Linked DNA regions of Homo sapiens. The protein of the gene in region 2 interacts with the protein of the main gene of each other region in a pairwise test. Each region holds a gene or a part of one and is shown on either strand. Other genes may lie near its edges.

Region 1 (3,446 bases), on a different chromosome or scaffold from region 2:
AATCCCAGCTACTTGGGAGGCTGAGGCAGGAGAATCACTTGAACCTGGGGTCAGAGGTTGCAGTGAGCAGAGATTGGGCCATTGCACTGCAGCCTGGGTGACAGAGCAAGACTCCGTCTCAAAAAAAAAAAAAGATTTACTAAGTGCTCCGAGCCCTGGGGATACAAAACTGAACAACAACAACAAAAATTCCTGCCAAGCGCACGCCTGTAATCCCAGCTACTAGGGAGGCTGAGGCATGAGAATCTCTTGAACCCAGAAGGTGGAGGTTGCAGTGAGCCGAGATCACACCACTGCACTCTAGCCTGAGTGGAAGAGCAAGACTCCGTCTCAAAACAAAACAAAACAACAAAAAAGTTCCTTGCCCTGCTGGAGCTAACCAATTGTATTGAGGGAGACAAACAGTACCATACCAGTAGATGGAAGTGCTGTGGCAAATATCAAAGCAGGGGAGGGGGCTAGGGAGTACAGGGAGGGGAATCTGTTTTTAAAGGTGTTCAGGGAAGGCCTCATTGGAAAGGTAGCATTTTAGCAAAACCTAAATACGGTAAAGGATAGGTAATGGCAGCTTTGGGCCTCTCACTGGCAGGATATTTTCTTCCATATACAGCTTTCTATTTTTACTAGGAATTTTGATTAAGCATAATTTCTGAAGACAGCCAAATTTACTGTCACTTAATCACTATAATCTTATCTGAGGACTTGTTTCTTAGTAACTGTCACTAAATAGAATTAGTAATAGATGACAAAGTAATAGTCATGAAATTATTGAGGATCATCTGTTGAAAGATTAATAACTAAATATTTGCAGTTACATATCCAAGACTTAAAAACCAACTCTACCTCATAGCTGATAAGGGTCTAGTATTCTTCTCCATGGAAAGTCCTTAATTTTGAAGATGATCTTGTCACAAACTAGATGCTGACTTTACTCAAATCTGGTTTTGTTCTATAAAGGACTTGAAGAGGCTTACAGAGTACATATAAGACAAAGGGATAAAAATAAATAATTGAAGAATTTTAGGCAAAGGGAAAACATAGGTGGGACAATAATATAGCCAGGGGCAAAATTTTGAAAATGTAGAATATATAATTCTGTGTAACCGTTAGAAGTCAGTGAGGTATACAGTTGTAAAGTTCTGATGCCAAACGTGAATATGATGCTCTCTTATTCTTCACACAGCCTCCTATGAGTGAGAGCATGTCAGTCAATCTCTGAAACAGTCCTGCTACTCAACAGTGCTCAATTGCAGCTTCTAATCTTTAGAATGAAGACAATATTAGTGTGAAGCTGAAAATATTAGTTGTAATATAAAACATAGAAACGTGTTAATAACATCTTAGTCGTAGTTAATAACATCTTAGTTGTAACATATTTTCCAGTTAGAAAATATGATTATGTTTCTTTCTTTGCAGGTTATATGGCGGGATGAATTACCGTCGGCTAGGGGGTGGCGTAGGAGTTATTAAAATGACACATTGTGAATCCCATATTTGGTGAACACAGAGAAGACAGTCTTGTATATATTCCTCTGTATTCTGGGGAGCTTTGACCTTGGAGCTTTGTACAGCTTGAGAAAACATTAGAACAAATTTTATTATTTGCCGGTGCCTCAACAAATGGAAATACAATCCAATGAAAGTACTTCACCTGCAAGATGCACAATAATTTTCAACTCTGTGCAGAAGAATATTTATTTTTGGTTTTAATTTATCATGGTTTTTTGTTGTTTTCGTTTTGAACTTATCCTTCCTCCCACAAAAAAAGAAAAGAAGAAAAAATTCCAAGCAGCAAAACTTACTTTGTTTGTAAGGTATTCATTTAGGTTTGAAAATACTATTTAATAAGGGCAGAAGGGCTATATATGATTTGGCTATTATTTCTAGACACTCCATCCACATGATTCCACTAACAAGGATTACCAGGAATAAAGGTAGGTATGCAAAATGTATTAGCTACCCATTATTCTCGCACTAACCACCAGAAGACTTGAAAATCTTAAAAAAAAAAAACAAAAAAACAAGAAAAGGCAACATCTCATTTTAAATAGTACAATTCAGAAGGGATACTAAATCAATAAAAACCAGGACTCAGACACTACAGTTTTCATCAGTGTAATTTTATGTCTTGTTTCTTTCTATATGAACTTGTTTATTTAGTCTTTTTTTCATAATATTCTCATAGAGTTTCTGCTAGATCTAGAGCTCTGCTCAGTGCCTCTTATAAAAACAATATATAAGTCTCATATGCTGTCTTGAGAATCCAAGAGAATCACATGCAGCTCTGCAACAGTTTTTGCTCAAAAATGTTACTGACTAAAGCAACTGTCCTTCCTGTTTCCTTATTGCTACCAAGGACCAGCAGGGAGAAATGTCTTCTCCCAGCAGTGAATTCTGTTATGCAATTTATTCTTGATGCTCAGGCCTGGTTAAGCTGAGGCTTACCTTTAATAACAGCCTCCAAGGGAATGAATTATTCAGTTAATGTAATAGCACACATTAAAGAGTGTAAAATCAATTGAGGCATTTTATTAATATCTTGGTTCTTTTATACAAACAATGTATCATTATCTTCATTCTATAAGGTCATTGTTACTACTTCTCTCAAATTGCACTTTCTGGTAAAAAGTTAAAAATTTTTAAGGAAAAAATAATTTCAATGGTTAAAGTTTTTTTTCCTCATTGTATTCATAGACAAATTTTTTTCAATATATTTTGCAAGAAAAATCTTTGAATAAGACTAACTGCATTTAAAAGGAATAACCTCCTTCTCCCTTTCCCCAACTACAAAAATGTTTGGCAACTTTGTGTTTACATTTAAAGATCATTTGCACCTTTTTCAAGGAAAAAAAGTATTGAGTAAACAATTGTTTACATATATCATTTATGCTTTTTTCTAGCATGTATAACTTTTTTAAATAAAGGTAGTATTTACCATTAAAAAAATTTTAGCTAATGCTTTTTATCCTTGTACTTTTGTTATTTAATTTGGAATTTCTGTTTCTATATAATTTATTTTATCTGTATGTAAAGTTACAAGTGCTTTCAACTTGAATAAAAGGATTGCCAGCTAGAATTAATAGGAATTTTCATTATATATTTTTATATGTTATATTACCTAACCTATAAACTTATTTTCTAGGTAGGACTTAGACTCATACAATTTTGAGCTGGAAGGACTCTTTAACAATCATCTAGTCCAAACCCACTTATTACACTGATCCAAGTCTGAAAACCACAAAGTCTGCCTAAGAATAAATAGTCAATTAATGATAGAACCAACATTAGAAATCAGCTTCCTCAATTCCCAGTCCATTCCTCTTTCTATGCCACACTGCCACTATAGGTTTACCTGAAACTAAATATAATAAAAGACCTTAAGTATTTTAATTAAGTCTGGTATTAACATGTAAAAAGTATAAAAACTTTTATGAGATCCTCACTGT
Region 2 (4,180 bases):
GGGATGAAAGTCTAATTAAATTCATGAAAGTGGAAGAAGAGGACATTGAGATGGCATGTATAAACAGGTTTTTTTTTCTCTTAAAGGAATTTTGCTGGGAAGGGTAACAAAAATGGAGCACTATCTTAAAATGGAGTCAAGGGAGGGTTTTTCTAAAAGATGATGTCTGTGTGCTAATGGGAATGATTTAGTGGAGAGGAGGAAAATGGTCATGTACAAGAAGGAAGTGACAACCATAGAAGTGATATCCTTAAGTCGATGAGAGGGGTTCGATCAAGTACTGAAGTAAAGGACATTAGATTAGCATGGACAATTTATCCCTTGTAACAGAGCATCTCAACACAGGTGCAAATAGGTTGGTAATCTTGGTGTGGGCAAATGTGAAATTTATTCTGATTGCTTTTATTTTCTCATTTATTCCCACCTCCCATCCAGTGCAGGAATTCCCTGTGCACTGTTGCTGGTAGGTGGTCATCTACATGCTCATGTCATCCTTGAATATCTCTGATTATTGGAAATTGCTTCAGTGCACCAAACTGAAACTACCTTCTGTAGTTTCTATCCTTTGATCCCAGCTTTGCCTCTGACTCCACATACAACATACTCTTCCCTCCCTTAGAACGGCCTTGCAGATATTTGAAGATGATAATTGCTGGGATATGTTGGAAATAAGACAGAATGATCCTAGACATAGGCATATTTTTTTATTTTTTTATTTTTATTTTATTTTTTTTTTTGAGATGGAGTCTCACTCTGTCACCTAGGCTGGAGTGCAATGGTGTGATCTCAGCTCACCGCAACCTCCACCTCCCAGGTTCAAGCGATTCTCCTGCCTCAGCCTCCTGAGTAGCTGGGATTACAGGCACCTGCCACCATGCCCAGCTAAGTTTTGTATTTTTAGTAGAGACCACATTTCGCCATATTGGTCAGGCTGTTCTCGATGGTCTCGAACTCCTGACCTCAGGTGATCCACCCACCTCAGCCTCCCAAAGTGCTGGGATTACAGGAGTGAGCCACCACGCCCGGCCCTAGACATATCTTTTTATGTTTCCGGACCCTATCTGTGAAGTGAAGATGATAAGTCTTGCCCTATTACCCAGAGTTAATTGTGGCCATTAAATTAGACAGTGCTTATGTAAGTACTCTTTGAATTAAGTGCTGAGTGCTTGTAAAGATTTAGTCTTACTGTTTTTCTTTACCTTTCCCAGGAGACGCTTCATTTAGGGGACTAGGGTGGCAACAGTTTTCACTTACATTTAATATTCCTTTCCTGCTAGAAGAGATCAGTTCTTGGATGACTGAGGTGAAGGCACCAGGAATAATTTCTGCCAGCAGCTGGGCAGATGTTTAACTCAACAGGCTAAATGGATAATAAACCCTTCAGATGTGTAAGCAAGAATAATAATAAAGCCAGGCACAGTGACTCACGCCTGTAATCCCAGCACTTTGGGAGGTTGAGGCAGGAGGATCACTTGAGTCTAGGAGTTTGAGACCAGCCAGGCCAACATGGTAAAACCCCGTCTCTACTGAAAATACGAAAAGCAGTCGGGTGTAGTGGCTGGTGCCTGTAATCCCAGCTACTTGGGAGGCTGAGTCAGGAGAATTGCTTGAACCTGGGAGGTGGAGGTTGCAGTGAGCCAAGATCGTGCCACTGCACTCCAGCCTGGGCGACAGAGCAAGACTCCATCTCAAAAAAAAAAAAAAAAAAAAAGAAGAAGAAGAATAAACCCTTAGGTCTGTAACATATTTCATAAGTTTACAAAGTACTTTCAAATACACTATCTTATTTTATTTTTACAGACATGTGAGATGGGCATTATCATCATCCCTACTTTACAGACAGGGAAGTTGTACATAGTCCCATGGCCTTTAAATGTTCAACCTGATCCTTAGGTCATACTCTTTCCAGTATATATACACAGCTGCTACTTTGCATCCTAGAGCATAAAGCAGCTGACCATATTTCTAGAACTTGTATATGGGGAACAAGAGAGAGCCTCATTTGGAGCTCAAGGTGATTCACCATTTTTATTGCCAGGCCTTGTACCTCATTGCCACCAATGGGACCCCAGAACTTCAGAACCCAGAGAAGCTGTCAGCTATCTTCCGGGACTTTCTGAACCGCTGTCTCGAGATGGATGTGGAGAAGAGAGGTTCAGCTAAAGAGCTGCTACAGGTAACTGTCCTTATGCAGGGAAGCACCTAATTCAGGGAATCACTAAACCAGGCCTTTTTTACTTCATGTTTGTAAGGTACTGGATATTATAGAACTAGGCTTCTCTTCTACCACTTCCTACACTCACTCTGTTCCTACTGCCCTTTTATCCCTGGGCCTTTGCTCATTTATTTTCTTAGCCTTTCTCAGCCTGTTAAAACTCTACACGTTCTCCTAGGCTCAGTTTACAATCTATTTTCTGAGCACCTATTGAGCTTTGCTTGTAGCTTTTTTGCTTGCTTCCTTCCTTCCTTTCCTTTCTTCTTCCTTTCCCTTTCCTTCCCTTCCTTTCCCTTCCCTTCCCTTCCCTTCCCTTCCCTTCCTTTCCCTTCCCTTCCCTTTCCCCCCCCTCTTCCCTCTCCCCCTTCCTCTCACGCCCCACAGGGTCTCACTCTGTCACCCAGGCAGGAGTGTGCAATGGCGTGATTTTGTCTCACTGCAGTCTTCCTCTCCTGGGTTCACTCAAGTGATCTTCCCACCTCAGCCTCCCAGGTAGCTCAGACTACAGGTGCACGCCACCATACCTGGCTAGTTTTTTAAAAACTTTTTTGTAGAGACGGGGTTTTGCTATGTTGGCCGTGCATGGTCTCAAATTCCTGGGTTCAAGCGATCTGCGCACTTCGCTTTCCCAAAGTGCTGGGACTACAGGCATGGGCCACCATGACCAGCCTGCTTGTATCTTTCATTAGCACTTCCTTTGTTCTGTTTGAATTAGTCTGGCAGAGTTTGTTTGAGTCTTGTTGAGAAACGGGTCTCTGACACCCAAATCTTACACAACTTATATTTTGCTGGGATTAGCTCAAAGGATACATTTTTAGCAAAGGAACATAAGTTTATTTTATTTTATTTATGTTTTATTTTTCTTTCTTTTTTTTTAATTCTTTTTTTTTTACATTTTATTATTATTATACTTTTAAGTTTTAGGGTACATGTGCACAACGTGCAGGTTTGTTACATATGTATACATGTACCATGTTGGTGTGCTGTACCCATTAACTCGTCATTTAGCATTAGGTATATCTCTTAATGCTATCCCTCCACCCTCCCCTGACCCCACAACAGTCCCGGGTGTGTGATGTTCCCCTTCCTGTGTCCATGTGTTCTCATTGTTCATTTCCTACCTATGAGTGAGAACATGCAGTGTTTGGTTTTTTGTCCTTGCAATAGTTTGCTGAGAATGATGGTTTCCAGTTTCATCCATGTCCCTACAAAGGACATGAACTCATCATTTTTTATGGCTGCATAGTATTCCATGGTGTATATGTGCCACATTTTCTTAATCCAGTCTATCGTTGTTGGACATTTAGGTTGGTTCCAAGTCTTTGCTGTTGTGAATAGTGCCACTATAAACATACGTGTGCATGTGTCTTTACAGCAGCATGATTTATAATCCTTTGGGTATATACCCAGTAATGGGATGGCTGGGTCAAATGGTATTTCTAGTTCTAGATCCCTGAGGAATTGCCACACTGACTTCCACAATGGTTGAACTAGTTTACACTCCCACCAACAGTGTAAAAGTGTTCGTATTTCTCCACATCCTCTCCAGCACGTGTTGTTTCCTGACTTTTTAATGATCGCCATTCTAACTGGTGTGAGATGGTATCTCATTGTGGTTTTGATTTGCATTTCCCTGATGGCCAGTGATGATGAGCATTTTTTATGTGTTTTTTGGCTATGTAAATGTCTTCTTTTGAGAAGTGTCTGTTCATATCCTTCGCCCACTTTTTGATGGGGTTGTTTGTTTTTTTCTTGTAAATTTGTTTGAGTTCGTTGTAGATTCTGGATATTAGCCCTTTGTCAGATGAGTAGGTTGCAAAAATTTTCTCCCATCCTGTAGGTTGCCTGTTCACTCTGATGGTGGTTTCTTTTGCTGTGCAGAAGCTCTTTAGTTTAATTAGATCCCATTTGTCAATTTTGGCTTTTGTTGCCATTGCTTTTGGTGTTTTAGACATGAAGTCCTTG
Region 3 (3,840 bases), on a different chromosome or scaffold from region 2:
GTGTCTCCTCCTGGGGGATGAGGGCGGGGGCCGGTGAGGGGGGCCAGGCCAGGCGTGGGGACCCTCCCCAAGGTTCCATCACCAGAGGAAGCAGCAGTACAACCTCCTCCGCGGGGTGGGGGCAGGCAGGCTGCTCCTCAGGACCCCACCCCAGCGTCCTGCAACCACCTAGCCTGACTCTTGTTAAATGTTAAGGCTTTGATACATCTTCTGAAACCCACCCAGAGAGGGGATCTGTGCAGTCCTCTACCCTAGATCAGCGGGGCTCCACCTCTATGGGGGGGTCACAGACCCCACTGAAAATCTAACCAACTGCAGGCCCTCTTCCCTGCCCCCAATAAGGCACAAAAGGAAATTCCTGGAGCGGTTCAGAGGCACCGGCGAGGGCACCAGGGAGGGAGCTCGTCATCTGGACGGCCATCAAGCCACCCTGGTGGCCACCAAGCTCCTTCCTGGGGTCTCCTCTGTGCGGTGGACACGTCACAGGTCTGGGTGAGGCTGCTGTGTGGGAGTGGGAAGGGGCTTCCCAGGCCTTGATGCCCTCTGGGGCCCAGTCTCTGTGGGGCCATGCTGCCACGGACTGGGGAGCGCCTGGGCCAACATGCCCCGGTGCCCAGGCCCGCTGTGTGCCCTCACCCAGGAGGGAGAGACGCCTGAGCCTGACATGCCAAGGGGGCAGCAGGAGTTGGGGGCGGGGGTGGGGGTTCTGGCGGCAGGGAGGTGGGGGTGTCTGCACCTGTGCCCTGAGCACCCAGGGGAAACCAACAGCAGCTGCAGGGCCAGGAGCTGCAGGGCCAGGATGAGGGCTGGGGGTGGCTCCCCTTGGATATAGTCCTGAGACTTCTTCCTCTGAGCCTTGAGGTCCTTGGCCTTGGTGAACACACCAAGAGGCCCCGCCCCGCAGGGAGCTGCCGCCACGCGTGTTCTGGCTCAATCTGCACCACCTGCGTCACCACATTCCCATCCCCACCCCCGCCTGGTGACAGCTGGGGACAGAAGGTGAGGTCCAGGTGACGGTGACACAGCAGTGGCAGCAGCAGCGTTCCCCACGCCAGGCTGTGTGCCCCGCCATGACTGCCGCCCAGGAGGGTAGGGCTGGGTCTGAGGGGCGAGCCGCCGTGTCCTGACAGCTGGACCTGCACTTGGAAGGGCTCCATAAACGGGGGCTGAAGGAAGGCAGGAGCACTAACGAGGTGCCCGCATCATGCGGGTGGGGCCCACATGCGGGCCCAGCGACCCTCGAGACCCTGTGGGTCAGGCCCTTGTGTCCCTGCGCCCCGTGGGTTTGGCCCTCACTTCTCTGTGGATTCAGCCCTCACGTCTCCCCTGGCATCCCAGCCTCGCGCTCACCCTGTTGTTCTGCATATCTTTGTTAGCCCCGTTCTTCAGGAGCACAACTGCGGCATCCACATTGTTCACGGCGGCGGCCCAGTGCAGGGCGGACTTGCCTGCGTGAAAGAAGCAGATGGGGTAGGTTGGAGACCAGCTGGAGGCAACCCAGTCCCACCCGTCCCTGTGGCGGTCCCGCCCCACGACAGAGCAGCCGTGCCCCCGTGGGCTCACCCAGGTCATCTACGGCGTTGACGTCGGCGTGTGAGTTGATGAGGTCCTCCAGCATGCCCTCCACGGCCAGGCGGGCAGCCAGGATCAGTGGCGTCGTGCCATCATGCATGCGGGCATCCAGGTCTGTGGCTCGGTTCCGGATCAGGATCTGGGCAACAGGGAGAGGCTCAGGCGGGTGCTGGGCAGACGTACACCGATGCCTCCTGCCCAGAACGAACGCCTGGACGGGAAGCCCCACTGTCTTCCGGACACAGACGAGACCCTCCTGAGATCGGCACGGCCGGGCAAGACGAAACGCCATGGGGCTGCCCCTGAGGAGGGGCCCGGATGGGGGCAGGGGCTGTGCTGCCCACAGACAGGCCCCTTGGTGACAGTGGGATCCATCGTGACCACGTGTGGCCTCATTTAATCCTCACTGTGGTCCTAGCTGCCATGACCACCTACAAAACAGAGAGGTCAAGTCCCTGCCCCCAACGGCGGTTACAGCTGGCACTCAGGAAGCCGGGCTCACGGCCCTACAGCCGTCTCAGAACCGCCGAGCTAGTGTCCGGCTCTGCCCAGAGAGGGGGTGGGCAGCCCTTGTAATGCAGCCGGGTCTTGGCATCTGGCAGGAGGAATGGCCCCTGCTCACTGGCGGGTGCAAAAGGCAACTTGGCCTGATTCCTGCAAAGCACCTGGGAACTTCCACATCTGTGCAAAGAAGGCAGCTGAGAGAGGCACACACCAAACCCGCACGGGGCTCCCTTCCACGCTCTTTCTGCTCACCTACATTTATTTCTGCGAGATGACAATGTGTCACCTGAGCTAAGAAATCAGGAAATGAGAAGCTCTGTGGTAACTCCCCGGGCTGTGCCCATCTGAACCTGCTTGCTCCAGGGCCGCCTGGAGCCTGGGGACTCGCAGCAGGGGTGACTGCAAAGGCAGCCCCTGCCAGGGACACTCCCTGGAGACCCAGGCATCCAAATCCCTAAATCCATTCTTGCCACGAGCTCACCGGCAAGCTGAGCCCTAGGTCTGCAGGCACCGAGCGGCAGCCTCTAAACCCTGCTTCTCACTGCCACAGGCTACGCCGGCAGCCAAGGTTGAGGGAGGGGCGGGGCTGCGAGGGGCTGCAGCAGTGGAACCTGGACCTTGAGCAAGGCCCACAACCCTGATGGAGCCTGTTTTGCTGGGGGTGGGGAGGTGCTGCCTCACTCAGCAGATCCCCCAGGCCTCCTGCCAGACCCGCCTCTGCCTGACTTCCCTGGAGAACACAGATGGGCCCGACGCCCTCCCCCTCGCACCTCGCTGACTGCGAAGGTCCCAGGTGGAGGCACCAGTTGTCCCGGACTCAGCTGTGCTCGGGGTCAGGCTCCCAGGGCCACGTAAGCCTGGCCACTGCCCCAGACCACCAGGCGGCCCTGAGGAGGGCAGGTGGGCACACAGGCAGCCACTGCCTACCTGGAAGACACCTTGTGCGTCGGCAGACACAGCCGCATGCAGCGGGGTGCGGCCCATGTTGTCCTGGATGTTGGCATCTGCGCTGGCCTCCAGCAGGCGCTTGGCGGCATCAGAGCGTGAGTAGCGGGCGGCCAGGTGCAAGGCGGTCTCGCCCGTGCGGTCTGTCTGGTTGTGCAGGCTGGCGCCCTGGTAGATGAAGTCGGAGATGACGGCCGGCGCGTCCTCCTCTTCCTCGCTGTTGCCCGTCTCCAGGCCGCCCCCGCTGCAGGAGGCGATCATGAGCGGGGTGAAGCCATCTGCAGAGGCAGAGACGGGTGCTCAGTCTGGAGGGCCGGTCCCCAGCTGCAGCCCAGGGGGAGGGGGGCAGCAGCCCCAAGCTCAAGGGGCCACGGTGTGGATGCACCACCCAGCACTTGGTGGCCCCGTGCACACAGCCACCAAGGGGCAGCTGAAGTCCGCCTGGGCTGCTCAGTGGACAGAGCCGAATCCAGCTTAAACTCCTGGCGGGCAACTGCTTCCTGACCTGCCCAAGACCTGGCACCCAAAATCCACCCAGGAAAAAGAGGACCCCAGAAGCATGCAGTTAGAAAATTAATGCTTCAGCAGGATGCGGAGGCTCACGCTGTCATCCTAGCACTGGGGGAGGCCGAGGTGGGCGGATCACCTGAGGTCAGGAGTTCGAGACCAGCCTGGCCAACATGGTGAAACCCCATCGCTGCTAAAAATACAAAAATTAGCCAGGTGTGGTGGCAGGCGCCTGTAGTCCCAGCTACTGGGGAGGCTGAGGCAGGAGAATTGCTTGAACCCGAGAGGTGGAGGTTGCAGGGAGCCGAGATC
Region 4 (3,840 bases), on a different chromosome or scaffold from region 2:
CCCAGCACTTTGGGAGGCCGAGGCAGGTGGATTGCTTGAGCCCAGGAGTTTGAGACCAGTCTGGGCAACATGGTGAACCCCCATCCCGAGTAAAAATACAAAAATTAGCGAAGTATGGTGGCACATGCCTGTAGTCCCAGCTATTTGGGAGGTCGAGACAGGAGGATCGCTTGAGCTCATCAAGTTGAAGCTTCAGTGAGCTGAGATCATGCCACTGCACTCCAGCCTGAGTGACTGAGTGAGACCCTGAAAAAAGAAAAGAAAAGAAAGAAAGAAAGGAAAGAAAGAAGAAAGAAAAAGGCTGTGGTAGTCCTGTTTATCTCATCGGGTGTCTTTTATTCCAGAAATAGTGTTGGTCTTACATCAGAGAGGGCTTGAGTATTTTGCAGATAAATGTGCCCATTGTGACATCTGAGAGGTTTTTCTGGTGTTCTCTTCCCAATAACAGCCATTACAGCAGCAGATCATCAGACTCCACCAAGAGCTTGGGAGACAGAAGTCTCTGTGGGCTGATGTTCATGGAAAACTCCGGAGTCATATAGATGCTTTGAGGGAGCAGAACATGGAGCTCCGAGAAAAGCTGAGAGCTCTGCAGCTGCAGCGGTGGAAAGCCAGGAAGAAATCTGCAGCGTCCCCACACGCGGGGCAAGAATCGCACACTCTGGTACCAAAAGCGCATTTATGTTTTTGTACCGTTTGCGTTATGTAAAAATAGCGTCCCCATAAAGATGTGGGCTTTATTGCTGAATGACGCGGTATCACTCACGCTCCGGGTGGTGGGAGGGGTTGCTATCTTTCCATCAACTCCATTTCCCGTAAGTAATGATTAATAAGAACTGGATACATCAGGCCTCTCACCTGGCACTCCAGCAGACAGAAGCATTGCCGCCCCCAGGCCGTGTGTCTCAAGTCCAGAATTCTAAGACATCTCATGATGTCTCAGGACAACAGCAGCAAACCCTTACTGTGGACTTTACATGGGCTAGGTACGGAGCTTTACGGTCTTACTCTCTATGACGACCCTATGAAATGGATCCTATTACTAACCCCATCGTGGCCACGGGCTGGAGAACGTAGAGCTGGGATTTGAACCCAGGGTGACTCCAGAGCCAGCTCAGTAGCCTGGTGTCCTTCTGTTCATCCTCTAGGACAGCTGTGTAGAATGCAATAGAGACCTGTTGAAACGGGAAAAGTTCCCTTGTCCCCCTCGCAGGGTGTGCGATGGGGGTGTGGCTCGCTTCTTTGGTTCCCCACTGCTCAAACCTCTAGGGGAGTGTACAGACCGGCAGGCTATGGGGCTCTGACCCCACGGCAGTGTCTGGGGGTGAATGTTTCCAGCTGAAGCCCCAGAGGGTGTGTGTTACAGTGCGGGAGCTCTTTCAGTTTACCCCTCCGTAGGCAGCTTGTGTTTATCAGCTCAATTAGACCCTCTGCCTTATCACAAGGACAGAGGGCTTTCTGTATCCTGGGTTCTTGCCTTGGTGTACCTGAAAAATCAGATCACACATGGGCTTGGAGGATGGGTGCAAGGTTTTTTATTGAGTGGTGATACCTGTCAGCAGATGGGGGAGCCAGAAGGGAGATGGAGTGGGAAGGCAGTTTTCCCCTTGGGAGTTGGGCTGCCCAGTGACCGGGCTCTCCCCTGACCACCCCAAGCAAACTCCGTGTCATTCCGCCAGTCGATGGCCTGCTGGCGTCTGCTGTGTCTGCTGGTGTGCTCTTCTGCCGGTGTGTTCTTCTCGACATCCAGCCGCTTGGTCTCTGCCCGCTAGGGTCTTGGGGTTTTTATAGGCATAGGATGGGAGTGTGGCAGGCCACGGTGGTCTTGGGAAATGCAACATTTGGGCACAAAAGCAGAAATGCGTAGGTCCATGGGCACAGGCCCAGGGGTCGAGCCCTAGCCAGGGACCCCGTTCTTCTCCACCCAGGACTTTCCTGCCCCCATCCTGTATCACTAACCTGCTCTATCCCGAACGAAGAACCAGCATTCTCATGCTGAAGTAGTGGGTGCCTCCCAGCACCAGCCTGCCTCTACAGAACACTGAGCTTTCACGTTTGATCACACCGCTCAAAGAACCAGCCTAAGAGAGTGTGAATGTGGCCAGTGTTATCACTGCCTTGTCTGGGTTCTGTTTCCTGCATATGGATCTAAATAACTTGAATCATTAAAATTATACATACAGGTAACAACACATGAAACCACATGAACACCCTCCAAACGTAAGTGGGGATATTTCTTAGTGGATTAAGAAAAGTACTAACATTTCCTAGCTGCATTTATTGTGTGAACTTTTAAATCGGTACTTCCAGGACTTAGAATATTTCCGATACAGCACAGTGATTACAACACACACACACACACACACACACACACACACACACACACAGGCACCCACCGAATACATTCCAGAGGAGACTGCTCTGTGGTTTGTTCTCCAAGCACAGCAAAAACAGCCACAGCTGGGCGCGGTGGCTCACACCTGTAATCCCAGCACTTTGGGAGGCCGAGGCAGGTGGATCGTGAGGTCAGGAGATTGAGACCATCCTGGCTAACACGGTGAAACCCCGTCTCTACTAAAAATACAAAAACATTAGCCAGGTGTGGTGGCGGGTGCCTATAGTCCCAGCTACTCGGGAGGCTGAGGCTGGAGAATGGCCTGAATCAGGGAGGTGGAGCTTGCAGTGAGCCGAGATCGCGCCACTGCACTCCAGCCTGGGGGACAGAGCAAGACTCCGTCTGAAAAAAACAAAACAAACAAACAAAAAAAACTGCCACAAGTTCCTCTACAAGAAATTACGGGAAATCTTGGAAGTTATTCCCACTCTTCGGGAGCTCTGCGAGAGCTTTGTTTCCATGGAGATGGCTTCTGCTGCCTCAGAAAGAAAGTGAGTTTAGCCTCTCAGCACAGCAAAGCGCCGAGTCCTTCTGCGGAAGGAAGAGCAGAAGCTGGGCAGGCTGTTCCTCTGTCAGAGGAAGAGTGGGGGAAATTGCCACAAATACTGGCCGGGATTGTCCACCTTCTGTGGGGAGAACCCAAGAAGACTCACAGGGATTTTTTTCCCTACATATATTGTATGCCAGTTCCTAAAAAATAGTATCTACTGCCCCATTTGGGTCATTGTATAACAATTACCCTAAGAGTCAATGAAGTCTTATTCAGTCTTCACATGCCCTGCAGTTTTGATCATTCTCTTATTTTGAGATTAGAGCTTGGTGAATTTCCAAATATTTTTCCATTCTGTGCATTGCACTGGTCACCGTGGGGCTATTTATAAGAACAGGATGTACGCTCACAAGAGCATACCTGATTTGAAGAAACAGGATGGGATATGTGAATCCCACACTTTAAATATGCGAAGGTGTATCTGTGTGTAGTCGCCGTTTTAGGGACTGAATATCTAAAAGGCTGAGACTCGAGCACCCACAGAACGCGGGCATGGCTGTGTGGGTGAGCCACTCTGGATCTGATATTAAGGGTTCGTTCATAGCAACCCTCTCCCCTTCTCATTCCCTTCTCCTCCTCAGAGGGCAGAACGGTGAATAATTTAGCATTCCAGACCTAATATACCTCATCCCACCTGAAGGATCACCCTGTTCCAGGTCAGTCTGCTGATAACAGGGAAAGTTGGGAATTTGCATTTTGGATCTTAGACAAGTTGTAGAGACAACACTAGAAGTAGTATCACATTTTCTTCCTCCGTTAACACACTCCCGGTTGAAGACACAGGAGCCTAAAGGAAGATATGTTGGGGATTGTTTGTTCTGTAGCCTTTGGGATCCTGTGATCATTTTGAAACAAGGAACCACAATAAGAAACACAAAGCAAACATCGGCTCCAC

Evidence for each region. Proteins that work in one complex are often made in the same cells at the same time.
Region 1: the proteins of PAK1 (region 2) and KLHL20 interact in binary tests that used the Homo sapiens proteins (3 or more experiments, as listed by UniProt).
Region 3: the proteins of PAK1 (region 2) and NOTCH1 interact in binary tests that used the Homo sapiens proteins (3 or more experiments, as listed by UniProt).
Region 4: the proteins of PAK1 (region 2) and TCP10L interact in binary tests that used the Homo sapiens proteins (3 or more experiments, as listed by UniProt).

The regions. Positions count from the first base shown.
Region 1 is NC_000001.11:173,783,747-173,787,192, forward strand, and holds the end of KLHL20 (kelch-like protein 20), read left to right. Parts: intron 1-1,416; coding exon 1,417-1,501; 3' UTR 1,502-2,946; downstream 2,947-3,446. UniProt on the Homo sapiens protein: Substrate-specific adapter of a BCR (BTB-CUL3-RBX1) E3 ubiquitin-protein ligase complex involved in interferon response and anterograde Golgi to endosome transport.
Region 2 is NC_000011.10:77,330,726-77,334,905, reverse strand, and holds part of PAK1 (serine/threonine-protein kinase PAK 1), read left to right. Parts: intron 1-2,038; coding exon 2,039-2,176; intron 2,177-4,180. UniProt on the Homo sapiens protein: Protein kinase involved in intracellular signaling pathways downstream of integrins and receptor-type kinases that plays an important role in cytoskeleton dynamics, in cell adhesion, migration, proliferation, apoptosis, mitosis, and in vesicle-mediated transport processes.
Region 3 is NC_000009.12:136,497,549-136,501,388, forward strand, and holds part of NOTCH1 (neurogenic locus notch homolog protein 1 preproprotein), read right to left. Parts: intron 3,300-3,840; coding exon 3,004-3,299; intron 1,712-3,003; coding exon 1,564-1,711; intron 1,449-1,563; coding exon 1,351-1,448; intron 11-1,350; coding exon 1-10. UniProt on the Homo sapiens protein: Functions as a receptor for membrane-bound ligands Jagged-1 (JAG1), Jagged-2 (JAG2) and Delta-1 (DLL1) to regulate cell-fate determination.
Region 4 is NC_000021.9:32,579,024-32,582,863, reverse strand, and holds part of TCP10L (T-complex protein 10A homolog 1), read left to right. Parts: intron 1-448; coding exon 449-664; intron 665-3,840. Other genes in the region: CFAP298-TCP10L (uncharacterized protein LOC110091775), read left to right, coding at 449-664. UniProt on the Homo sapiens protein: May be involved in transcriptional regulation. Has in vitro transcription inhibition activity. Acts as a tumor suppressor in hepatocellular carcinoma (HCC) cells.